Homo sapiens: one gene and its partners. The protein of the gene in region 1 interacts with the protein of each later gene in a biochemical or structural test. Each region holds a gene or a part of one and is shown on either strand. Other genes may lie near its edges. The genes, in order: PDZD2, MMP24, ARHGEF16, CYTIP, SLC5A12, MKNK1 and CLDN10.

Region 1 (3,500 bases):
GGGCTGGCATGGAGTAGGTCCTGGTCGCTGGCCTTGGGGTGAAGTAGAGATGGTCCTCCCCCGAGGGGCCCCCTGGAATGCTGTTTCTGGGCACCCCTCGGGAGTCTGACATCAGGCTTGATTTTCCCTGGGAGTATTCTGCCTTTCTAATGGCTGTTTGAAGGGAGGAGGAGGAGGACGCCAGTTTTGCCATGCTGAATGATCGTGACATTTCCTGCTCTGCCTGGGAGGCATGAGATGGGAGTGAGGATGGATGACTTGTGGATGATTCTGCGACCTGGCGATAGAGCCTGATTTCACTCTTCTCCTGACAGTTGCCCTGGGCCAAGCACCCTCCCCGTCTGTCGCTTTCAGCTGGCTTGTTACCACATACAGTCTCTGACACTGCTTCAGCAGAAATCTCCACGATTTTCAGCTGGTTTGTTCTTTCGAGGCGATCGCTGGCCATTATGTTGCCTCCTTTTTCGCCAGTCGGCCTGGGTTGGGCTGTGTCTGCTGCCACATGGCTGGCCAGGCGCGGCTCACTCTGTCTGTTCCCTGCCACGGACATGCCGTTCCTAGACGCTGCCGGACTCACCGGCCCGGAGTCAGCACGGGGCGCCCTGCCCTCTGCTCTACACTTAGGAGATTTAGGGGTGGTTGGGCAACCTCTGTCGGGTTCAGAGAGGACAGCCATGTGGAACCTGCTCCACATGCCTTGCTCAGGAACAGGCTTGGGAGAGGTCAGGGGCGAGACAAATGTCCTGATGCTCGTGTCAGACACTGAGGGTTTCAGTGGCCCAGAGGTGGCAAGAGGTGGCTTGCTTTCCAGCACACACTGGGGGGACCTGGGGGCAGCTGTGGTGTTTCTGTCAGGGTCCTCGTGGTCGGCTACATGGAGCCGCTGTGACACTGCCTTAGAAAGTGTTTTGTGGGAGGTCTGGGGTGAGATCAAGGGTTTCCTGTGGTCCGTCCCCCCAGCCTTCACAGCATTCGCAGCAGGGGCCTCAGAGTTGACTTTGGCCTTGCCCTTGAGGCTGAGCCTCTTCAGCTTCGGACCACACTTTGCCTTCTGACCATTAGTCAGAAGCATTTCTGCCGGACTCTTCTTAGACAGGTCCTTATTTTCCAGGTTTGTTTTCGGCTGAGGAGGGCTATGAGGCACAGTAACGCCCTTTTTTTGGCTTGAACTCACCATCTGAATCTTGGAGTCGGGACTTCTGGCAGGCATTAGAGGTTGTTCCTTCTCGGTTTTGCTCCTCAAATGTGTGCCTTGGTTATGTTTATTTATTTCTTTAAACCAGGCCATGATGGGCCTCCTAGCGATCATTTTTGGTTTCTGTAGCAAGTCATCCAGGTCTTGACTTTCAGAGATGTGGAGGTTTTCCAAAACAGATTCTCCATTCTTAGGGACATCCACACTGAAGGAGGACAGACTGGCAGCTGCATTAATGCTTGTTTCGTATTGATTCAGGGTTTCGTCATCTAGCAGGTCATGTTCCAAGCCATTTACCATGTTGGGGGAGCTGAGAATGATGGGCGGACTGTGAAAATGCCTGGCTACTTTAGACAGCGGACTGTTTTCCATGGCTGAGCTAGCGCTGGTGACTTCTGTGGTTTCTTCTGCACACGAGGGCCTGTGGTTCTGTGAAGTGCTTATGTCCGCATGAGTTTCATGCTCCTGAGAGCTCATCTCCAAGAGTGATGATGGCTGGGAAGAGTCTGGGCCTGAAGTGTATGAGCCTGGCAAGCAGGCGGCCTTCTCACGGGGACTGGCCACCGACTCTCTCGGAGTGCTGTATTTTAATGACAGAACTTTGGCTGAGGCAGGACAGATGGCAGCCTGGGTGGGAAGATGAGCAGGACTCGAGGGTGGATTGGGGCAGCCACGTGTGGAACAAATCTCAATCTGTTCCTCTTCTGACTCCGAAGGATCTTCCTTGTGCAAAGACACACGGGAACGAGGAGGGGACCAGCCGTCCCTGGCAGAAGCTCGTGGGGCTTCAGTGAGTGACTCAGGGTCAGAAGAAGAATCCTCAGCATCGCCATACATGGATGACAGAGACGGCTCCGTGCTGTCACCCAGGCCTGATAGGGAGGTGCTGTCTTCATGAAAACTGCTAAAATTTCTAGAGTAGTTGCTCAGAAAGTTTTTGTTCACAGTAAAATGTTTGTCGGGATTAATTGAATCTAAAACCGAAGGCTGGGAGGCCCATTGTGGGTAGGCGGGGGCACCAGCAGCCCAGGCCCTCCTCGGGGAGGAGGTCTGGCCCCCCGGGACTGGTTCGGCACGGCAGGAGCTCCCACCTCCAGCCCCGGCTGGTGGGTGGCCCTGAGCACTGCCCTCCTGAGAGCCACTGTCCCCCGTCTGGGAAGACGGAGACCTTGCTGCAGAAGCATCCAGCTCCTTGATGAAGCTGTCAATGTCCGTCACAGGGCTCTCTCTACTCCCCCCTGGGCAGCAGTGCCCCGAGACATGGCCACATGCTTCTTTGGTGTTGTCAGTGGATGGCAGCATGGAGAGGCTGGCCTGCGGTGCCCTTGAGGACACAGAATCTGCTCCCTCCAGCAGGGAAGGCTCCTGGGAGCTTTCAGGTGCATGGATTCCTGTCATTTCCAGAGCCTTACTGTGGTTACCTGGAGCTCCCTGTCTCTGCTCCTGGGATGTGAGGGGGTCTCCTGGCAGGACAGCACCAGCTGGTGTCATTCCCTCTGCTCCAGGTCCCGCTCCCCTGAGGGCAGCCACCCTCCTGGTATTGTGGGGTGTGCTGGTTTCCGATGCTGATCGAGTCTTGCTGTAGTCAGGGGGAGCCGCTGCTTTCTCCCCCGGGGAGGGGCTGCCCTCATGGGGGAGCCTGACTGGAGACCTGGCCTTGCACTTGGTGACCCTGGGCGATGCAGGCTGGCTGGGATTCTCTGGCCGACTGACTTGCCCTGTGTCTACAGAGGTCTTGCTGGGGTCAGGATGAGCGGCCCCCTTCTTCCCTGGGGAAGAGATGAGGTCTGAGGAGCTGTCCAGTTCTACGTGGGGAACGTAAACAGAAGGTACATACACAGGAGAGGTTGTAGGGGAGATAAAAGGGATAATATAAGAAAGCAGCCCCTCAATTATTAAAAACTAGAAAATTATAAACAACCTCAAATATTTTTTTCTTTTTCAGAAAGCTGGGCGTGGTGGCGCATGCTTGTAATCCCAGCACTTTGGGAGGCGGAGGCGGGTGGATCACCTGAGGTCAGGAGTTCGAGACCAGCCTGGCCAACATGGTGAAACCCCATCTCTACTAAAAAAAAAAAAAAAAAAAAAAAAATTAGCTGGGCATGGGGGTGGGCACCTGTAATCCCAGCTACTTGGGAGGCTGAGGCAGGAGAATTGCTTGAACCTGGGAGGTGGAGGTTGCAGTGAGCCGAGAATGTGCCATTGCACTGCAGCCTGGGCAAAAAGAGCGAAACTCCGTCTCAGAAAACAACAACAACAACAACAACAACAAAACGGCGTTCTGTGGCCTAAATGGAGGCCCTTC
Region 2 (2,905 bases), on another chromosome or scaffold:
ACCCAGACCCAGCTCAGACCTTCGTGACCACCCCATCCCTTTCTCCGGCTGGCTGGGTCGGGGGCATCCCTCTCTGTCGCTGGCTTCCAGAGGCAGGACAGGCCTCCTGGTAAGCCCGCAAAGTTGCTGACCTCCTGACTTCGTCTGCCTTTTATTAATATCTGTATTGCTGATAACCGTGCTCTTGACTATGTGTCCCAGGTCATGTCCCAGGTCATGGAGAAGCCCGTGCCACAGTGACCCTCCCCATACTCCTGGGGGGGCTGCTCTCCATCCTGGATCGTAAGGAGGCATCATCAGGCTGTGTTCCTGGAACCCCAATAACCCTGGGCCCCCAGGGCCAGCCTGTTGTAGAGGGAGGCTATCTGACCGCCGGTCTGGCAGAGGAGATGGGTGGGCAGCTCCCAGACACCCCAAAGGACCCGGTTCTCTTCCCAGAGCGTCCTAAGGTTACTCTTGGAACCTGATCTTTGTTCCCTCATCCCAGGGAAATGACACACTCTGTATTTCTGTTTTATTTAGAAATGATTTAAAAAACATTATACAAAGGCTGATCAGTTTAAAATGTGACTGACACTGAAATGCTGTGATGTCCCCCAGGCTGAGGGGAAGCTAGGCTCTGGGGCCCCCAGTGCTTTGCCCCTCTGTCTGCCCTGTCCTGGGGTGATGGACAAACAGATGACCACAGGCAGGAGAATCTGAGATTGGAAGCCTCTAGGCTGAGCCCTCTGGGCCTGGCCCCACATCCCTCACCTCTGCAGCCTGGGCTGCCTGCCTCCATCTCCTGTTCATTCTCAGCTGGCCTGCCAGGAGCCAATGGGGAGCCTGGCGGGAGGCGGGGGTGCCTAGAGCTTTCAAGAAGTGAGAGCACCAACCTGAGGAGTGGACAGGGACCAGGAAGTGGGGGAAGGGAGGCCAGGAAGAGGTGGATACAGGAGACACTTCTCATCTCATCTCAGACCCTAGAGGGGTCCACAGATGGGGACACAAGACCCAGCCAGCCCACTGGATGGCCCGGGCAAGTAACAACCTCTCTGTGCTTCATCTGAGGGCACGGTGAGAGTTACCGTCGGCCTCCCAGGGCCTAACACGAGTTTCATGTGAGTGGACAGGTGTGAGCTAATAAAGTGCTTTGCAAAGTATAAAACACTGTACAAACCTATGAATCACTAATATCTCCGCAGTTGTTCCCTGCCTGTCCCAGGGAGCCTGCCCTTGGCCAAAATGAGAAAAAACAAGGATGATGACAGGGGACACAGCGGACCCACATGGGCACCTCTGGGACAAGAGATTTTGCTTGAGACAGCTCCCAGGGCAGCAGGAGTCCCTGTCTGTGCTACAGGGTAAGCCGACCCCAATCCCAGAGACCACAGGGTCGGGGGCAAGGCCCATGCAGGCTCAGTGAGCAGGGGTGGCATCCGAGACCCGGCCAGCACGCTGGAGACTGCCTGACACCTTTTTGGCTTTGGCAGAGAGCCAGTGGGCATTGATGAACCCATTGGCCTTGTCTAGGGCTCCTCAGTGACAAGCAGGGCTGCCTCCGCCGTACTGTGGAGCAAGGCAGGCCAAGCCCTAGGAACTCCTGCTGGAGACAGTGAAGGGCGGGCCAGTGAAGGTCAAAAAGGGAGCCCCCTCAGCTTGGGGCTGCTACCGGTAGGGGTGTCCTTCTAAGAGCAGTGTGGGAAGATGGGCCCAGTGAGCGAGGTCAGCAAGGGCCAAGCTCTGGGAAAACACTGCTTCCAGCCGAGAGATTGAGTCGGCCTCAGAGTAGCTGGAGTCGGCCTCAGAGTAGTGGGGGCACTGAGCACTTCAGACGCCCTGGTCCCCTTCCGAAGGACTCCCAGGCTCTGCCAGTGTTGGCCCTGCAGCCATCTCTGCCTCACCTAACTGGTGAGGCTGAGCTCCAGGCTGCAAGTGACAGACTGGAGCAAAGCTGGGGACAGTGACAATAGAGGGGAGTGGAGGACGGTCACAAACTCGGATCTTCCTCCAGAAATGGGGTCAGCTTCTGCCCCAGCTCTGTAGCCATAGGAGCAGAGCTCAGCTACTGGGGTGTCTGGGCGCTAGAGTGGCCTTAGCAGCACCTTGGTCCTTGTCGCCTGGGGGAGGGCCGCTATGCTGGCCTCATCACCAAGACAGTCACCTCTAGTTCACCTAAAGCCTCAAGCAGCCTTTGCAAAATGGGACAGTAGTGACAGGACATTTAAATATTCACGATGTGACAGCTGGGTCCTTGTCAGACCCAGCTGGGCCACAGCCCTGCCTGCAGCATGTGACCCTAAATCCTGGGTCTCCGAAGAGACCCTGACAAGTGGAGCAGGTTTCCTGAGGGATCTGCCGTCTGCCAGCAGGGAAACCCAGGCTTGTTGCTCACTGTGTCAGAAGCAGGGGTCCTGTAGCCTTGGAGGACAGTGGGGTGGGGGTAGGGGGACATCTGACCAGCAGGTGTTGGCAAAAGGGGACCAGGACTGGTGGTATCTCCCGGATGGGGGATGAGAGCTAGTGCTGGCTTCCCACAGAGGGTGCTGGGTTCCAGCCAGGAGTGGAGCTGTGGTACCTCATGGACACCACAGGATGCCGTGACCACAGGGGCTCCTCCTGGCATGGTCCCTGCCTCCGGATGGAGCCTGGCCTATTCCCTTAAGTAGGGAGTAGTTTGCCCAGGACAGAAGGCTGGCAGCTGGGTGCCAGACACCCACCCTGGGGCACAGCCCCCATAATTCCCTGCCCCACGCTCAGCCTAGGCCAATGCACCCACCACTTCAGCTGTACGACCCCAGCCTAGGGCCCTGCTGGCCCTGGTGAGCACTGGCCAGAGCTGCCCCTCAGACCCTGGTGAGGAAGGGCCTGGCTGGCCAGACCAAGTGGATAGAGAGGGCTCTGGGCTGCTCACACCCATTCCTGG
Region 3 (3,500 bases), on another chromosome or scaffold:
GGACGAGGGCGGGGGCAGGTGCTGTGTGACCCAGATGAGTTCCTGAACCTTCCTGAGCCTTGGCTTCCCCATGTGGAAGCAAAGATCACAGCCGCCCTCTGGGCATCCTCTGGGCAGTGTCCACGGAAGGTGTGTGCCAGAGCGTCTTCTTCACTGGTTGCCGTCCCAGCTGCCTCCTCAGGCCCAGCTCCTGCCCAGACTGGGAGTGGCAGTGCCAGCCTCAGGAGACGCCAAGACCACCTGTCAGAATGTCCCATGGGCGTCCACTGCAGGCCGATGGTGGCTGAGGTGGGGTCCCCCATGTCCCCAGCACCAGCCACTGTCCTCGGTCACAGCTCTCTCTTGTGCCTACCTGAGACGCCCAGGACTCAGAAATGCCTCAGCACCTCTGCCGCAGGCCCCTGCACCCCAGCAGCTGGAAGGGCCCCAGCACTCTCTACACCCACCAGGCCCAGGCCCATGGGGCTCCGTTCATTCATTCACTGTTTATTTCATGCAGTCAGCAGACACTTCTGGGCACCTGCCACATGCTTGGTGCTGGGGTTCCAAAGTGAGCCCACGGGCATGGGCCTGGTTCTCAGAGGGCCTCCAGCGCAGGGAGAATGCCGAGGGCTGGGCTGAGGGCAGCTCGGGGGTGCTGGGAGCACAGAGGAGGGGGCTCCCCATGGCCTCGGGTCAGGGTAGGGTCCCGGAGGAAGGAGGGTTAGCGCAGAGGCAGACAGGAGGAGAGGACGGAGTCGGGGTGGGGGAGGCAACAGCTCCAGCCAGACCTGGAGGCCGAAGGGGGGCTGGGGGAGTCCTTGAGGTGGGGTGCGGGGCACGGGGCTGAGGGTGCCAGGCCAGGTACAGCTGGGAGCACCACACACTCCCAACCAGTAAGGGGAGTTTACAGGCCCCAACTCGTTCCGAGAAATCAGCCCCTTTCCTTCCGGGAACCAGCATACCTGTGGCGTCAGGAAAGTGTGGTGTCCCAGCCGAGGAGGGTGGGCTCCGAGTCGGGCACCTGAGCGTGGGGGCTTCCCAGGAGCCCAGCCCTCCCGTCACTTCTGCCATCCCGGCCTCCTGCTGGGGCCCCCAGACCCATGCTTGGGGCTGGACACTGGCCAATCCTTGCTCGTCTGTCCCACCAGGTCCTAGTCCCCAGGGGCCTGTGTCCTGCCCCACTGTCCCTTCACAGCCCTCTCCCAACCTCACCTGCCCTGCCACGGGCCTGCTCGAAACTCTTCTGAGCGTCCCCTCACGATGAGTTCAACCCTTCCTCCTCCTCCAAGCAGCCCTCAGTCACGTGTCCTGCCTGCTCTGAGCCCTCCTCCCACCTCTCTTGGCCTCTGCTTGGCGGCCGTGAGGCCCTGTGGAGCTGACATCTATTGGGCACAGCTTCGCATGTGGAGCCGAGAGGTCTCTGGGGTCCCAGGGCAGAATCGCCGTGGGCAACACCTGCCCCGGCTGACAGCTGCGGTTTCTGTGTCTCTCTTTTGTGCAGAAGACGCTGGGGAGGAAACGTGGGCACAAGGGTTCCTTCAAGGACGGTGAGTGTGGCTTCGGGAGGCACCGCGGGCTGGGCTCCAGTTGAAACTGGTCTCACTGGGGCACCCTGGGGTTCGGGTGGGCCTCAGTTTGGTGTCTCGGGGTCACCAAAGCTGCTTGACAGGGTCCTTCCAGAGGCTGAGGTCCCAGTGGCTGGTCTGTTCATGTAGCCCTGATGAGTCTAGAAAGGTCTAGAAAGTTCCCTTGGACTCTATTCTGTGTGTTCTGAAGGGCAGGGTACAGACAGAGCCCCCAGTCTTGCCCTGAACACCCCATGTGTGTGCTGGGCCCAGCCTACAGTGGCCGTGTTGGGGGACCAAGGCCAGATCAGAGGGCACCGGCCCCACACCGCGGGCTCTGCCCGGACTCTTCGAGGCTGAAGGGGAGCCATGTGTTGGGGCCTCCAGCATGGGTGGCGGTGGTGCACACTCAGCCTGCTCGGGGGAGATGAGAACATCCCACAGGGAGGTTGACATAGGGAGGTGCCTGCTACCTGGGTCCAAATGCCCGGGGGTGTAAAGAGATTAGAGGCAATGAAGCCCGGGGAGGGCTAAGGCCTCGAGTGCCCAGCTCCAGGCCTGAGGCTCCAAGACACAATGGCCCCTTCCAGCCCCCAGAAGCTTTGTGGACAGGCATGGGCCCAGGAGGGGGTACCCAGGTCTCCTCTACGGAAATCCCTGGGAAGTGTCCCCAGGAGGCAGCAGCGATGCCCCACGTCTCAGGGTAAGGCTGGTTGGGGGCTGCTGTGAGGGTTTGGAGGCACCCTGAGCCGGGACCAGCCCATTTCAGGTGGGACTTGTGGCATAGGAGAGGTCTTGGGACTGGTGCCCAGCCTGGGGCAGTCCCCTCCCAAAGCCTCCCTCTCCCACACAGCCGTGAGAGCCTGTGGGCCTAGAGGACTCAGCTGGCGGGTTGCAGGGAGGCGCAGCCTTTTGCAATCCCCCAGGGCCACAGGTTACCCTCCTTCTCTCTCTAGACCCCCAGCTCTACCAGGAGATCCAGGAGCGGGGCCTGAACACCAGCCAGGAGTCTGATGACGACATCCTCGATGAGTCCTCCAGCCCCGAGGGAACCCAGAAGGTGGACGCCACCATTGTGGTCAAGAGCTACCGGCCCGCCCAGGTCACCTGGAGCCAGCTCCCAGAGGTAGCGCCGGAGGGTGGGTGAGGCTGCCCCACAGAGGCAGGGAGAAGCCACAGTCCCCCTGCTGTTCCTTCCCCAAGCCCAGGCGGCTGGTCCCCAGCAGCAGCCCAGTCCTCCCAGGGAGGGTGGGCAGCCTTCCCAGAAGCCCCTCGGCTGTGGGTGGCAGACCTGGGGGTCTCCCTCCTGTGCCCTCAGAGTCACCCTGCCCATGCAGGGCCCTGCCGTCGTGCGTGCGAGGGCCAGCCCTGCTCAGACTACCCTTCAGGGAGCTGCGGGCGCCAGGAGTCCCTTCCCAGGGCCCCCGCCCCAGGAGAGGGCTGAATGATCTGCGTAGGGAGACAGCTGGGATGGGAGGGGCCGGGACTTGGAGCTGGGGCCAGGGCCAAGACACTCCTTCACTTTCCATATCTGAAATTGGGGGCCCGTCCCTGCCCTGCAGGGGTCTCAGTGGAGAGCGTGGCCCGGCATTGGTCCCCATGCTTGGGGGAGATGGCTGCTCCTACCCCAGGTGGACCGGCATGTGACCCGCACCCTGAGGCCCAAGGGAGGGGACCATGTGGCCGTGGGCGTGGCGGGCAGCGGGGAGGGCGGGCCCCCACCTGTGGTACAATGGGGCTCCTTGTTCGCCATTCAGAGGGGCTGGCACTGCAACCACCCACCACACACCATGGTGCTGCGTACCCTGGGACCCCGGCCAGGGCAGGCCCAGCGTGGGGTGAGGGCAGGCAGCGGGCAGCCTCCCCACAGATAGAAAGGCCTAGAAGTGCAGTCTTACTCTCCTGCTGGGAGCTGGGGGCGTGTGGTCTCCCTCTGTCGGGGATGGAGTCCAG
Region 4 (3,500 bases), on another chromosome or scaffold:
ACCTGATCAGATCGTCCGGAAACCTGCTAACGTAACTATCTGTCTAGTTCCCGTGGGGCTTCAAAATGTTATGTTTTCTCATAAAGCCTGATGAGTGAATAAATAGGCCTTTTGTTCAGCATTACAAGACGGAGTGAGGCAGTGCACCGGAGCTTTAGAGTGGGGTACAAACATTATCAGTTCCTTTTGTTTCTCAAGATTCCTCACACTTGAACATACTGTCAACATCTGAAGTCAGAGGACATCAATAGCCCAAACGTCTGTGTGGGAAGGATGGCCTTTACAAATGTATTTTTTTAATGTCAAATTCAATTAAACTGGCACACATTCTCTTTAAACTGGGAAGAACTGATCCAATTTTCATGGTTGATATAATCCTGTAGCTAAAACAAATCAAAGGTCAGAAGGGCTGAGTTTTTCCTCTTATGTGACAAGCCACCTGTTTTTCTCTTCTAGTGTTCCATTTGGAAGGAAGAATAGTCTGTTCAACCCTCCCCACCCTGAAACACACATACTCACACCACATGTTCCAAATGTTCCAAACTTCTTTTTTTTTTTTTTTTTTTTGAGACGGAGTCTCGCTCTGTCGCCCTGGATGGAGTGCAGTGGCGCGATCTTGGCTCACTGCAAGCTCTGCCTCCCAGGTTCACGCCATTCTCCTGCCTCAGCCTCCCTAGTAGCTGGGACTACAGGCGCCCACCACCATGCCCGGCTAATTTTTTGTATTTTTAGTAGAGACGGGGTTTCATCGTGTTAGCCAGGATGGTCTCAATCTCCTGACCTCATGATCCACCCGCCTCCGCCTCCCAAAGTGCTGGGATTACAGGCATGAGCCACCGCCCCTGGCCCCAAACTTCTTAATAGAACACTGGCTTTCCCAATTAGAGGTTTGACTGATTTTTCTACCATAACAATACTAGCACCTAATAAAATCTTATTAGGATAGTTAAATGATGAAATTCGCTCATTCATTAAAATCATATTTATTGAGCAAATACTATGTTTCCAGCTCTGTGATAGGCTCAGGAGAGACGAAGATAAAGACTCTCTTAGTACGTTAATAGTTATGGAAGGAAATGGCTCAGAAAAGCCTGAAATTTAAGTAATGTGTATATTTCAGTTATTGATAACTACTATGAGAAAAGTGCAAAACAGCAATGGCCTGTCATGCTAGGTAAGAAGGCTGCTAGTTTGGCTTAGATGTGTAAAGTGGTCTTTTCTAGGGAGGCGATATTTGAGTTGAGATCTAAATGAAGAGAAGGATGGTCAAATGAACTCCTCGTAAGAGCACTTCAGGCAAAGAGAGAGGTCTCTGAGTGCTCACAATGGGCTTGGCATGTACAAGGGAAAGAGAAAAAGACAGTATAATTGGTATTTGATGGATTAGAGAGGGTATAATAAGAAATGAAGCCAGAGAGTTGGCCTGGGGGCAGACCATGGATCTCTTTGGACATGCCAACAAGTTTGGGTTTTATTCTGATTGAGGTGGGTCATATATTGTGTCATTTATTCTTCACAGCCACCCATGAGGTTAATTTTATTCCTATTTATAGATGAAGTGCCTGAAGCTTAGAGGGGGCTTAGTTAAGGTCACATAACTGGTAAGTGATAGGGCTGGGGTTTGACCACCTGCTCTGGATGCCAGGATCTGTCCTTTTCAGCTACAGCTGCTCCTTGGAAGCTGCCAGTAGAAAATCTGCTGGATGCTTTTCAGTGATTCTGGTGTAAAACTTCAAAGGATGCTTTGGGTGTTTGTGAGAGCAGATTTGAAAGATGGTGGTGGTAACAAATTGGGTCCAACTCTATAGGTCCTGTGAGTTCAGGGTAAAGGATGAGGTGCTTTTGCTCTAGAGAACCCTGGATCCAAAGGAGAGGAACCGTGCAGAGTCTGAGGGGAACTGCTGGTAGTTAGAGTCAGAAAGCATGTTCCACATGGGTGAAGAGGGTAGACCACAGGTAAATAGGGGTTGTAGATGGAGGTAACTGTTGGAAATCCGGGAAAATGGGAGACAGTCTGTACAAATACTGAGGAAAATGGCCAAATCAATGGTTGCAGTTTTGCCCATACACATCTATTGCTTCAGCAGGTCAAACTGACATTCAATCCCAATGAAACAGATTCATATGGATTCCCACTATTTCTCAGAGAGTCAAGATCACCTTAAGGAGAAAACAGACAGTATATAGCTTGCTACCACCTGATTATTCCTGGCATGATGCTATTAGAAGTAGAAGACTGATCTCCACATTTAATGCTTTTACCATGCCTTGAAAAATTCCTTGCATCTTTATAGAGAGGTACAGCTTAATTACAAGAAGGAACTTGAACCAACACTTTAAAAATTGGTGTGTGATTCACAAATGAAATTTTTAAATCATATTCAGATTGATGGTTTAGTAGTCAAAATAAAAGCCTTTAACTTGAACACACAGAACAAATCAAATCACTCAGAATAGAACAAGTATTTTATTTTTAGAAATGTGTGTGGTGTGGGAAGAACAGAACACTGGTAAGTTGATAATTCTAGGATTAGAGTTTGTAAACTGAATGTTTTGAGATAAAGAATCATATGAAGGTTATTATGTCATAGTAGTTGTACTTCTGTTTCTTCTAGTACCAAAATTATAAGGAGATTTACAGAGGTAAAGGCTCCTAGAATCCTATGGAGGAAAGGATTTCTCCCTCTTTCAAGAAGTAGCATGTTAATTCCATGGTTGTGAAAGCCCCTAGAGCCTATTATTTCTGTTGTTGTGCCCCTTGTGTTCAGCATGGTTTCTAGAATCTGGTACATAGTAGATGCCCAATAAATATTTACCAAATGAGTGAGGTCATTCAGCCCATCCCCACAAGAACAGATTCTAGTAGAGAGCAGCCATCATTGTCACATAGTGACTTCTATAAAATAAGCTATAGTTTACAAATTAACTAGGATCCTTTCTTTTAGCCACCTTCTCAAGGGGAGTTTTCCCCCATTTTCTTTCTCTGTTATCAGAAGATTTGGCTTTGGTCCAGCTACTCGAAGTGCCATGAGAACTGTAACATTTGTATTTCGTTTTTAGTATAGTATGTGCTCAAAGTGTAGTACTCTGTAGTATGGTACTTATTTAAACGAATCACTCATGTTACTCACTCCCCACCTTCCTCTTCTTTTTTTTTTCCTTAAAACAGGATAGAGACTCTTAATGGAACAATGATTCTGAAAAGAACGGAGCTTGAAGCAAAGCTGCAGGTTTTAAAGGTAATTTAATTTAATGCAGTGAGGCACATTTTTCATCCTTGAATGTGTGAGTGGTAAAATAAAGATCTATTTGAGGAACTGAGATAGCCCTTGAAAAAGAAATGTCGTGGTGAATCTAAACTGCTGAATTATCAAGAGCCGCACAATTACCTTTGGAGGAATATCAAATTCTGCAAACCAGTGTAAATCACTTTCTTCCTTCCTCCTTCTGTGTGTCTATGAGGCTCAGAAAGGCAACAGGAAGGCATGCCACTTGAAGAA
Region 5 (3,500 bases), on another chromosome or scaffold:
AGCCTCTTAGTGAGCAGACCTGAGGTTATCAGGCTAGCCCTAAGGCCTCATTTGGAAGACAGGGACCAGGAGGCAAGAACATCTGGTGGTCATGTTCAAAAATTTTTCCAAATGTTTGAAGGCATAATTAGACTTTGTTAGAGTGTTCGCTTTTGGCCTGAAGGGCATTTGACTAAGACCTGGCTTATTTGGAGAAAAAGAAAACAAAGGGATTAATACTGGAAGAGTTATTCATGCTGAAAATGTGTAAGAATTTTCAATCAAATTTAATATAAGTGCTGCTGTATCAACATAAGAGCATGCTAATTCTGGTGCACACATGGAAAATATGGACTGGCAAACTACTGGATTTCATGTGTACACATTTCCTGATTTAGAAGGAAATGTTCAGGCAGCTGAAATCTTGGTTGTCTTCTTAGTGGTGACCGATCACTAAACTGAAATGTCTAGGTATATCCCACTAGCATCAAGGAAGGAGTTACAGATGTCAGGGTACTAAGGCAAAATCTAAACAAAATGAATAAACAATCTTTTGCCTGAAACCATTTACATAAAGACATTGAGAGAGTTGTTATTATGTGAAAGACTGGGGTTACAAGATTTATAGTCTATTCTTTATCATAGCCAAGATCTTCTTAAATTTCAGTGAATGGCTAGTGACATCATGCACAGAACAATAGGGCATTGGAGCTTCAATATAACATCTCTAGTACACAGTCACCAGAAATGTTGCCATTCAGGTTTTGTGTTGAGTCAGAATGTTGGCCATTGTTCATTGGTATATAATAGTCATGGAAAAATAGAATACCTTAAAATTTTTTAGCTAAAATACATACTCCAAGGAGGTGGAGGGACAAGAGTACAGTGAACTTATTCCACCCCATTATCTCCCACACTCTCACCACTACCAACCCCTCATGGGCTTTGAAACAAAAAGGACATTAATACATCAAAAGGGCAAGTATGGATGGTAGACACTTTGCTAAAAATGGCTTACAGTGAAGCTGCTCACTGCAGAGAACTCCACGACCCTAGAGAAGCAGCCTCCAAAGGACAACATAGGCAAAAACAACAGTGTTTTGCTTTTCTAGTAAGTTAGCAAAGGCTGACTTCATGAGATAGTAAGATGGTGATGACAAAAATCTTGTCTCTTACTGGGATGAAGGGAAAAGAACCACTCTGAATATTTAACCTTATTTACTGATTGTTATATTACAGAGGGTTTTTCATACTCAGGCCTCTGGGGGGCATGTGTCAAAGCATCTTTTTTTAAATAATATATGGGAAATGTTTGAATATATGTTTTTTTGTTTGGTTGGGGTTTTTTTTGGTTTTTTGAGACGGAGCCTTGCTCTGTTGCCCAAGCTGGAGTGCAATGGCACCATCTCAGCTCACTGCAACCTCCACCTTCTGGGTTCAAGCGATTCTCCTGCCTCAGCCTCCCGTGAATATATGTTTTATATATTAATAGTCAGGTATATAATAATGAAGGGTGCCTTTGTATGTCAGCGTTGAGAGAGTAGACATCTCTGTGGGAAGAAGGGTTTTTGTGGGAAACGTGAATTCAAAGCAATAAGACAGACAGCCAGTCCACCAATGCATGCATGAGCCCATATCTTCTTTAGTCCCAAAGGGAGGAATTATAACCAACCTGTTATGAGGCTGATGATTACTCCAGCAACAATGCATCCTAAGCAGCCCACTGCACTGTAGTAAAGGTAGGAGATCGAGTACCAGGTATCAGCTATTCCAGGTCTGTGGAGAACAGCACATGTCACCAATTCCATGCATCCTAAAGACCCACAGTGATGTAGAGGACTGCTCAGGATTCATTTTAGGGCCTGGCATCTCAAAAGCCTAAATCATAACTTTTTGTCATTTAAAAAATTATATTTAGAGAAGATGTGCTTTGTATTCCACTCAATTCAATTCATTCCTGAATTACAAATATAACGATGTTGATACTGAATCATAAGTATTACAATGAGGATTGTGTCTTAATACAAATAATACAATTTCATTTGTATTATTTATTCTTCAGACTTTTATTAAGCCCAGATTTAGTGCTAGTAATTGTGACAAGCATTAGTGATATAAAGATGAGAAAGTCACAAAGTCTACATACAGGAGCTAATAGACAATCATAAAATGGGTTGGTTTTGCCTCAGTAGAAAAGGTATAAAATACTATGGCAGCCTTCAGAGTAGTATCAAATTCAGACCAATGCGTGAGATGATACCTCAGCTCATTTTGAAAGAATAATTAGTAGTTAATCAAGCAAAGAGGGTAGTCAGGGCCAGGAATTAGCATTCTAAGAAGAGAATACAGTAAGTATAGGCAGGAGGGAAGAATCAACATGGTTTATGGGGAACCATGAATAGGTTGAAATTCTTCGATATAAAATTTATGGAAAGAAAATGAAACTCAAAGACAAATGGAAGCAAAATAATGGAGTGCCCATTTGGAACCTGAGTCAAAATGAACTTTATGGAGGAATAGGAGACACTAGTATGGCTCTTGAAAGATAAACAGATTTTAGGAGAGTGGAAATGAACACTAAAATATATTCATGTAAAGGGAATAGCTTAAGGACCCAAATGTAGGAAAGAGTGGGATAAGCATAGGTAGACGAGAAGAAACAGAATTCAGAGTAGAAGGAAAACAATAGTTAATAACATTAAAACCACAGGAAAGTTTTAAGTTTGGCAGGTATTTAGCTCCAGGATAAAAAGGTTGTGTTTTATTCCATAAGCACATGAATCATTTAAGTCATCTCCATGTGGTAGTAATGAGTTCAGAAAGGTGCTTCAGAAAAAATAAATCTAGTGATGCTTGGATAGAATGGGTTGTATTAGAAAGGAAAAGAGATAGAAAAATGGAGGAAATAAAAAATACAAATAAGATAATTTCACTTTTCTGGACTTTGTAAAGACAAGACTAGCCTCAAGATTGACAAGGACAATGGAGAGGAGAAGATATGCCGGACCGAGAGAGACTTTCATGAATGCAATTTGCCACATTATCTGGCCAGTTTGAGAAGCCTGGACTCAGAGGGAATGAGCCAGTATGGGGAGATATTGATGATAATCAGAAAAGGGCTACTAAAAATGAAGTACTTTTGAGGATACACAAATAACACAAATCCTATATTTTCTAGACTTGCTCTTACATACAATTAGAATGTGAGAGTGAACATTTATTAAAGTCACGTGTAGTGCTACTTTATATATATGTATATATATTCATATATATATATGTATATATATTCATATATATATGTATATATATTCATATATATATGTATATATATTCATATATATATGTATATATATTCATATATATATATATATTTCCTCATTTTTCCATCAAGGGCTCTGAGAATTCAAGAAGTTACAACTTACTAACTTGTCCAAAGATACAGAGGGAATAAATTATAAAACCAAAATCCAAACCCAAATATTTCAGATTTCAAAGTCCACAATCGTCTCTCTACACCATAG
Region 6 (3,500 bases), on another chromosome or scaffold:
AGGTTTGGCATCTAAAGGCATCTGGAGGCTGCTCTAGAGAGTCAGGTAGGAACCCAAATTGGGCAATAGCAACTGGGTCACACGAATTGCGATTATGGAGGTGTATGACTTCCTTGTGTAGCTCCTAAAAGCTGGCCATGAGGCTGGTGCCAAAAAGGTTTCCCACACTGCTTAGCCCTGGCTCTTTGGGAACAGGGCAGTCCAGCTGTAAAAGGGCTCCAGAGTCAAACAGCCCAGGGCTGCTGTGTGGCCTTAAGCAAGTTAACTTGATTGCCACTCCTCACCTCTCTCATCTAGAACACCTCTCTTAAATTCATCGTGAAGATTATGGATATAATTATATCCAGCCCTTAGCACCACGTCTGACATGTGGTAAGGACTTACTATTTTTTTTGAGACAGATGCTTGCTCTGTTGCCCAGGATGGAGTGCAGTGGCGTGATCGCAGCTCACTGCAACCTCCGTCTGCTGGATTCAAGCGATTCTCCTGCCTCAGCCTCCCAAGTAGCTGGCATTACAGCACCTGCCACCATGCCTGGCCATGGTAAGGACTTAATCCTGGTGGCCACTATTATCACTGTCCGTCTAGTACCGTACGTGCCCCTCACTTCTGCTCCTTTCATTAAATACAAGGGCAGAGGGAAGCCTTGTGTGAATAACCCATGGGTAAGGTCTGTCTTTGGGCTGTAAGTTACAGTTCAATGGGCAAAACAGGTTTTTTTTCCTGCCAACAGTGCTAGGAGGGGCCTTAAGGTGCTGGAGGGCAGAGGATCCAATCTAGGTGAAGGAAGGGAAGGGTGGGAGATAGATCCAGAGTAGAGGAAAAGAGAGTGAGGAGGGGAAATGGGCAGGGAGCCCCTTTGGAGAAAGCTACCTGAGCCTAGAGATGGGCTCCCCCGGCCCCCACCCCCATGGTGGCTGAGAGCTTGAGGAAGAGCATGGCGTGGGGGTGGTCAGAGCATTTACCTCTGGAGGACTTGCGGCGTGGGGAGTCCCTTTTCTGGAGCTTGCTAGAATGGGAAGGACAGATGTGTAGGTAAAGCACTGCTCCCTCCTTTCAAGAACTGCCCCACCCAAGCCAGCAGTGGGTAGGTTACTATAGGCTGCTGGCGCAGCACAGGGAAATGGCTATGCTTGCTTGCAGGGTCAGGCCTTCCAAGCAGAGAGCAAGAAAGGTACAATCTGCAGCCGCAGCCCCCAACATAGCTGCTTCTGCATGGAGAGCCCCTCTTTCCCTTTGCCTGGCAAAGTCCTAATCATCCCCCAGGACCCAGCTCAAGGGTCACTTCCCCTGTGACGCACATTTCCCCTTCCCTGCCACCTTCCTGCCTCAGTCTCAGGCCCGGGATGGGGAGTGGGGTCTTGCTCCCTTTGTGCCCCTAGCACTTTTCAGAAGCCTTTATCATGCTGTAACTTATCCCCTTGTCTACTTCTCTCCACTAGAGCACAGAGACAGGGACTGGGTCTCACTTGTCCCTCTGGCATGTGGCAGGTGCTCACTTATGGGTCTGGGAATGAGCCAGTTAGACACTCAAACTGGGTCCCCATCTGCAACATAGGATGGCAATGCTTGCCTCCTTCCACTGGTAGGGTCACTGAGGCTGGCCAGAGCCTGGCACACCAAGGAGACCAGAAAGTCATGGGAGCATCTGGCAGACCCCTTGGAGGGCAGAGGTCAGGTATTGTGAGTAGCCAAGGAGGATTTTTAAAAATGTTTTCTAGTGAAGACATGAATTCTAAGCTTAGGGAAAAAATACGATCATTTGCCTTTCAGGCCAGCTGTACCCAGACTCCCAGACCATGAGGAGAACCTATGTGCCCCAACTCGGCCACACAACAATCAGCGCAGCACGGCCTTGCTCACTTCTGGGTGTCCTCAGCTAATGATGCTTCTATATAAGAGGAGGATGCTACAGACTTCAAATGACAATAGGATGCTTGCGGGGCTGGGTGCATGTACCAAATCCCCAGAGGACTCTGTTGGGGCTTAGTCTGTGGCCAAGTTTACAGCCAACTCTATGGCCTATAAGGGGCTCAGTCTGGGGTAACAGGAGGAGTCGATTCACTCTACACACTCAGGGATAGACGCTGTCCTCTTCAGCTGCACCAGCCACAAGGCTGGTGCTCAGCACTTGCTGGCATGACAGCTTCCTTGTGGCCATGCCACAGGCCTGAAGTGGTGGAAAACACCCCTCCCTGGAGTCACTCACCCCCTGCACCCATGGGTGCTGCAGAACTTGGGCGGCGCTAAGTCTCTGCTTTGCATCTCGCACCAGGAGCTTGGAGATGAGGTCTTTGGCTTCACTGGAGATGTGTGCCCAGTCCTTGTCAGGAAACTCATACTTGCCTTCCTGGATGCTTTCAAACAGCTTGTTCTAGGTACAAAAGATTCCTCCTGAGGCCACACTGCCAGGGATGGGCAGGATGTGCCTGTCATTGTTTTGATCAACCGGCTTCAATTGATCTCAGCTGTAGCTGCAGCTCATGGCTTGGGGATGCCACAGACTGGGGCCTCTTCCCAGACTCACCCCGCACTGTCCCCTAGATGATCAAACTATATAGAATGCCCTTGGCAGGCCAGGATGGCTATGCCCTTGGTGGGCTGGATGGGTGATGAGTGGAGATCACCCATAGAACAAAGCCCAAATTCCTTGGCTCTTCCTAGAGGACTCTCTGTGAACCTCTCAGGCCTCATCTCCCACTACCACCGACCTACTACTCCACTCTTCCTTCCTAGACACTCCAGCTATTTCATGTGCCCACATCTATGCCCGTGCTGTTCCTTCTACTTGTGATTCTTGTCCCTCTTCCGCAGGGCAGGATGCACCCTTTAAGAGTCAGTTCAGGGCTGGGCGCGGTGGCTCACGCCTGTAATCCCAGCACTTTGGGAGGCCGAGGCGGGAGGATCACAAGGTCAGGAGATTGAGACCATCCTGGCTAACACGATGAAACCCCGTCTCTACTGAAAATATAAAAAATTAGCCAGACGTGGTGGCCGGCGCCTGTAGTCCCAGCTACTTGGGAGGCCTAAGGCAGGAGAATCGCTTGAACCCAGGAGGCAGAGGTTGCAGTGAGTCGAGATCGTGCCATTGCACTCCAGCCTGGGCGACAGAGAGAGACTCCATCTCAAAAAAAAAAAAAAAAAAAAAAAAAGAGTCAGTTCAGGCATGATCTTCTAACAATCCTGCCCTGAACTCCCAGCTGGGCGGAGTGTCTGATTATCTCTATTTTACCTTGTGGCCACCGTGACAGGAGCGGGAGAGGGCACTATGAGCCCCCATCCCGATCAGGAACGCTCTCCCAGCCCAGTCCTGCTTGGCATCCCCCAACCACACTGACCCCTAGCAGGGTCTACGCAGTGCTCCCTGGGGCCGCACTCACCTGGCACACCCTGCAGACCTCGCCCCGGTCCCAGCCACAGTCGGCCCCGCAGTGACCCACGAAGGGTGGGTAGCCACTCAGCATGATGTAGAGGACCACGCCCAGGCTCCACAGGTCACA
Region 7 (3,500 bases), on another chromosome or scaffold:
TGAAAATGGCTTATGTGGTAAAAGCTTATTAGTTTAAACCCTGTTAATGTAAAAACCTGGACAAAAGCCACACTGAAGTTTACCGTGTACCCTGGCTGTGCAAATAAAAATACATGACTAAGAACATGAATAGCACAGGAAGGATGAACAAACGAACTGACAGAACATACTCGTTAGGGTACTTTAAAGGCATTCATTTATAAAAGAACAGTTGACTTAATCACTATAAATTACTCTTCTACAAAATAGTGCTTTTTAAAACCCAGTTTTATTATATACACCCTGAAAACAATAGTACTTCACTAAAGTATTCCCTTAGACCCCCCATGGTTCATGATGATATTCCAGTTAGTCTGCTATTAATAAGCGTCCACTAATATTGGAAGGTTTGACCCTTTGGATCTCTTTCTGCCACCCAGTTATAAATCTTATCATTTGATAATGTCAAAACCATTAAAACACCCTTTTAAAGTCCAATGAGCGGAGGAGCTACAGAGTTGTGATGGTGGCAGATGATGTTTTTTCACAGTGAAAGGCACCTTTCACTGTGGAATTTCACTATATGGAATTCGTAGTCTGATTTGGGATGGAATCCATGTCTGCCACTTTCTAACTCACCTCTGGTAAGTCACATAACCTTTGTGTGCCTCAGTTTCCTCACTGGTGAATATGGAAATAACACTCAGATCTATCCTGAGGATTCCCCATAAACCGCACTTCACAGTGTGTGACCTAGAATAGGCACTCCCTGTAGATTAACTTGCTTTCCTTTCTTGCTTGTCTTGCCACATGTTTTCACCATCACAGTTATCTTTTTGGAAAACAAACATCCAGAATGACAACGTAAAATGAGGATTTCTCCCTGGACAGCCACATGCTTTATGTAACGTAAATGACCTACTCTAATTGCAGGTTATATACAGGCATGTAGAGGACTTATGATCGCTGCTGTCAGCCTGGGCTTCTTTGGTTCCATATTTGCGCTCTTTGGAATGAAGTGTACCAAAGTCGGAGGCTCCGATAAAGCCAAAGCTAAAATTGCTTGTTTGGCTGGGATTGTATTCATACTGTCAGGTAAATAGTAACTTTCTTCCAAACAAGGTACTTGATGATGTTAATGAAATCACACTAACCATAGTGCTTTCCCTCTAATATTTGTTAGGGCTGTGCTCAATGACTGGATGTTCCCTATATGCAAACAAAATCACAACGGAATTCTTTGATCCTCTCTTTGTTGAGCAAAAGTAAGTACTCTTCTCAGTCTGTTTCCAGCTCACAGGAAGTGTATATAAATTAATATTCTCAACCAAGAGACATGAATTTCCTATATGACTTTTGAAAGTAAGACATACTGATAAATGGTAACTGATGACATCATTCAAGATTAAATGTGTCATATGCCACATACGCAAAATATGCATTTAATTAGTTTGCTAGTGTTGCAGTGTCTTGTCTCGAAACAGTTCAAGGCATCAAATTTAGAACTATAAACTTCATCGTTTGCTGTACATCATGAAACTGAGGTCAAGTAGAGGAAACGTGAAAGGTGTCAGACGGAGAGGAAAGAATGATGCGGTGTGCGAATAGAAAATTAAAACCTTGCCTTGATTGTTGCCCACTCAAAATGATATTTGCCAGATGCTAGTTTCTGGGTCTTTTAAATTTGCTGTATTAACTACTGTCTTAACAAGCTCCTCCTAATAAACCTTTATAAAGAAACTGTATACGATGCAAGGTTTTTGAAAAATGCTGTAGGAGCACGGCACCTTTACCCAAATGTGGCTGGTCAGTCTTGCAGATGAATGCTTTGGAATTAACAGATCAGTTTGCTTGTTGGTGTTGTTTTTAAACTATGGGCTGTTGCTTTTTATAGTTTCCCTAGGCTTATTTCTTTGGATTGGGAAAACCCCAGGGATACCAAATCAGAATTAATATATTAAATATTTTGTCTTACCTAAGAATGTATCTACATCCCTCTTTAGGAAGCCTCACGTACGTGTGTGTGTATTGCTATCAATGAGGCTGGTAATTTTATTTTAGACTTCAGGTCAAATTTTATAGAATTTTTAAGAAGTATATTACTGAAATAGCTGGTCAGCTGGGCTTTACTTTTTTTCTGGTGGTTTTAGGAATCTTCAGGAAATTGATTTTCTAGTTCTGGCTTAAGTGTACCTTACGCATAAACAGTAAATGCTTATATCATGAAATAAAATGAAAATAATAGCTAGCGCATGTTGAGTCCCCACCAGGAGCCAAGCAGAGCACTGCAAATATTATTTTATTGTGTTATTTTATTTTATTCTTACAAACAACCTTATAAAGTAGGTCCTCTTGGTACTCTTTTTTTAAATTGAGGAAAGAGGCCAAGTGATGTGTTCAAGGGAACTTGGACCAAACTAGTAGGCTGATTGAACTGGGATTCAAACCAGGCAGTTGAACTTCAGAACACTGGCTCTTAAAAAGCATGATTTCTAATATTCCACTATTTTGTAATTTTTGTGACAATATGCTACATGTACTGTTCATCAAGAGGTTTCTTTCGTCCTTTTTTTTTTTTTTTTTAAGAGTTAGGGCCTCTTTCTGTCACTCAGGCTGGAGTGTGGTGGTGTGATCTTAGTTGACTGCAGCCTTGCGCTTCTGCACTCAAGTGATCCTCCCACCTCAGCCCCCCGAGTAGCTGGGACATATATGTGCCACCACAACCAGATAATTTTTTTTTTTTTTTTGAGATGGAGTTTTCGCTCTTGTTGCCCAAGCTGGAGTGCAGTGGTGCGATCTCGACTCACTGCAACCTCCATCTCCCAGGGTCAAGTGATTCTCTTGCCTCAGCCTCCTTAGTAGCTGGGATTACAGGCACGCACCACCATGCCCAGCTAATTTTTTTGTATTTTTAGTAGGGACAGGGCTTCACCATTTTGGCCAGGCTGGTCTCGAACTCCTGACCTCAGGTGATCCACCCGCCTCAGCCTCCCGAAGTGCTGGGATTACAGGTGTGAGCCACTGCGCCCGGCCCCGGATAATTTTTACATTTTTTAACGGAGACAGGTCTTGCTATGTTGCCCAGAGTTGTCTCCAGCTCCTGATCTTCAATGATCCTCCTCCCTCAGCCTCCCAAAGCACTGGGATTACAGGCATAAGCCACCATGCCCAGCCTTTTCTATACATTTAAAAATAGTTTTTATTCAGAAATGTTATTAAATGGGAAAGAAAAACAAATTTTATTAAATGGGTTTTAGACCTCAATATAACTTTTTTATCCCCTGCCTATAATACAAAAACATGTCCTAATTTATTAATTTTCTCCTACTTATCTTTCAAATGAGATTTGCACAGATGTACATGGCAGGAAACATTGAAATAAAAACCAAGGCTGTATTTCTGAAGCTTAGAAATATTTTAATGATATTTAAAAGAAATATTGTATTTAAATGATACATTTTTATTTTAGGGTTTGATATCATAAATATGCAGCAAACCTGTACTTCTCATGGTTTATTTTA

What was found.
Region 2: the proteins of PDZD2 (region 1) and MMP24 interact in a test that uses a peptide from one of them, tested with the Homo sapiens proteins (one large-scale study listed by IntAct).
Region 3: the proteins of PDZD2 (region 1) and ARHGEF16 interact in a test that uses a peptide from one of them, tested with the Homo sapiens proteins (one large-scale study listed by IntAct).
Region 4: the proteins of PDZD2 (region 1) and CYTIP interact in a test that uses a peptide from one of them, tested with the Homo sapiens proteins (one large-scale study listed by IntAct).
Region 5: the proteins of PDZD2 (region 1) and SLC5A12 interact in a test that uses a peptide from one of them, tested with the Homo sapiens proteins (one large-scale study listed by IntAct).
Region 6: the proteins of PDZD2 (region 1) and MKNK1 interact in a test that uses a peptide from one of them, tested with the Homo sapiens proteins (one large-scale study listed by IntAct).
Region 7: the proteins of PDZD2 (region 1) and CLDN10 interact in a test that uses a peptide from one of them, tested with the Homo sapiens proteins (one large-scale study listed by IntAct).

What each region holds. Positions count from the first base shown.
Region 1 is NC_000005.10:32,086,631-32,090,130, reverse strand, and holds part of PDZD2 (PDZ domain-containing protein 2), read right to left. Parts: intron 3,001-3,500; coding exon 1-3,000.
Region 2 is NC_000020.11:35,274,594-35,277,498, reverse strand, and holds the end of MMP24 (matrix metalloproteinase-24 preproprotein), read right to left. Parts: coding exon 2,890-2,905; 3' UTR 501-2,889; downstream 1-500. UniProt on the Homo sapiens protein: Metalloprotease that mediates cleavage of N-cadherin (CDH2) and acts as a regulator of neuro-immune interactions and neural stem cell quiescence.
Region 3 is NC_000001.11:3,464,665-3,468,164, forward strand, and holds part of ARHGEF16 (rho guanine nucleotide exchange factor 16), read left to right. Parts: intron 1-1,483; coding exon 1,484-1,529; intron 1,530-2,137; exon of another isoform or gene 2,138-2,250; intron 2,251-2,503; coding exon 2,504-2,673; exon of another isoform or gene 2,674-2,686; intron 2,687-3,500. UniProt on the Homo sapiens protein: Guanyl-nucleotide exchange factor of the RHOG GTPase stimulating the exchange of RHOG-associated GDP for GTP. May play a role in chemotactic cell migration by mediating the activation of RAC1 by EPHA2.
Region 4 is NC_000002.12:157,427,090-157,430,589, reverse strand, and holds part of CYTIP (cytohesin-interacting protein), read left to right. Parts: coding exon 1-31; intron 32-3,169; coding exon 3,170-3,239; intron 3,240-3,500. UniProt on the Homo sapiens protein: By its binding to cytohesin-1 (CYTH1), it modifies activation of ARFs by CYTH1 and its precise function may be to sequester CYTH1 in the cytoplasm.
Region 5 is NC_000011.10:26,677,061-26,680,560, forward strand, and holds part of SLC5A12 (sodium-coupled monocarboxylate transporter 2), read right to left. Parts: intron 1,756-3,500; coding exon 1,652-1,755; intron 1-1,651. UniProt on the Homo sapiens protein: Acts as an electroneutral and low-affinity sodium (Na(+))-dependent sodium-coupled solute transporter.
Region 6 is NC_000001.11:46,559,269-46,562,768, forward strand, and holds part of MKNK1 (MAP kinase-interacting serine/threonine-protein kinase 1), read right to left. Parts: coding exon 3,381-3,500; intron 2,406-3,380; coding exon of another isoform or gene 2,375-2,405; coding exon 2,210-2,374; intron 1,010-2,209; coding exon 966-1,009; intron 544-965; exon of another isoform or gene 402-543; intron 1-401. UniProt on the Homo sapiens protein: May play a role in the response to environmental stress and cytokines. Appears to regulate translation by phosphorylating EIF4E, thus increasing the affinity of this protein for the 7-methylguanosine-containing mRNA cap.
Region 7 is NC_000013.11:95,559,220-95,562,719, forward strand, and holds part of CLDN10 (claudin-10), read left to right. Parts: intron 1-912; coding exon 913-1,074; intron 1,075-1,162; coding exon 1,163-1,244; intron 1,245-3,500. UniProt on the Homo sapiens protein: Forms paracellular channels: polymerizes in tight junction strands with cation- and anion-selective channels through the strands, conveying epithelial permeability in a process known as paracellular tight junction permeability.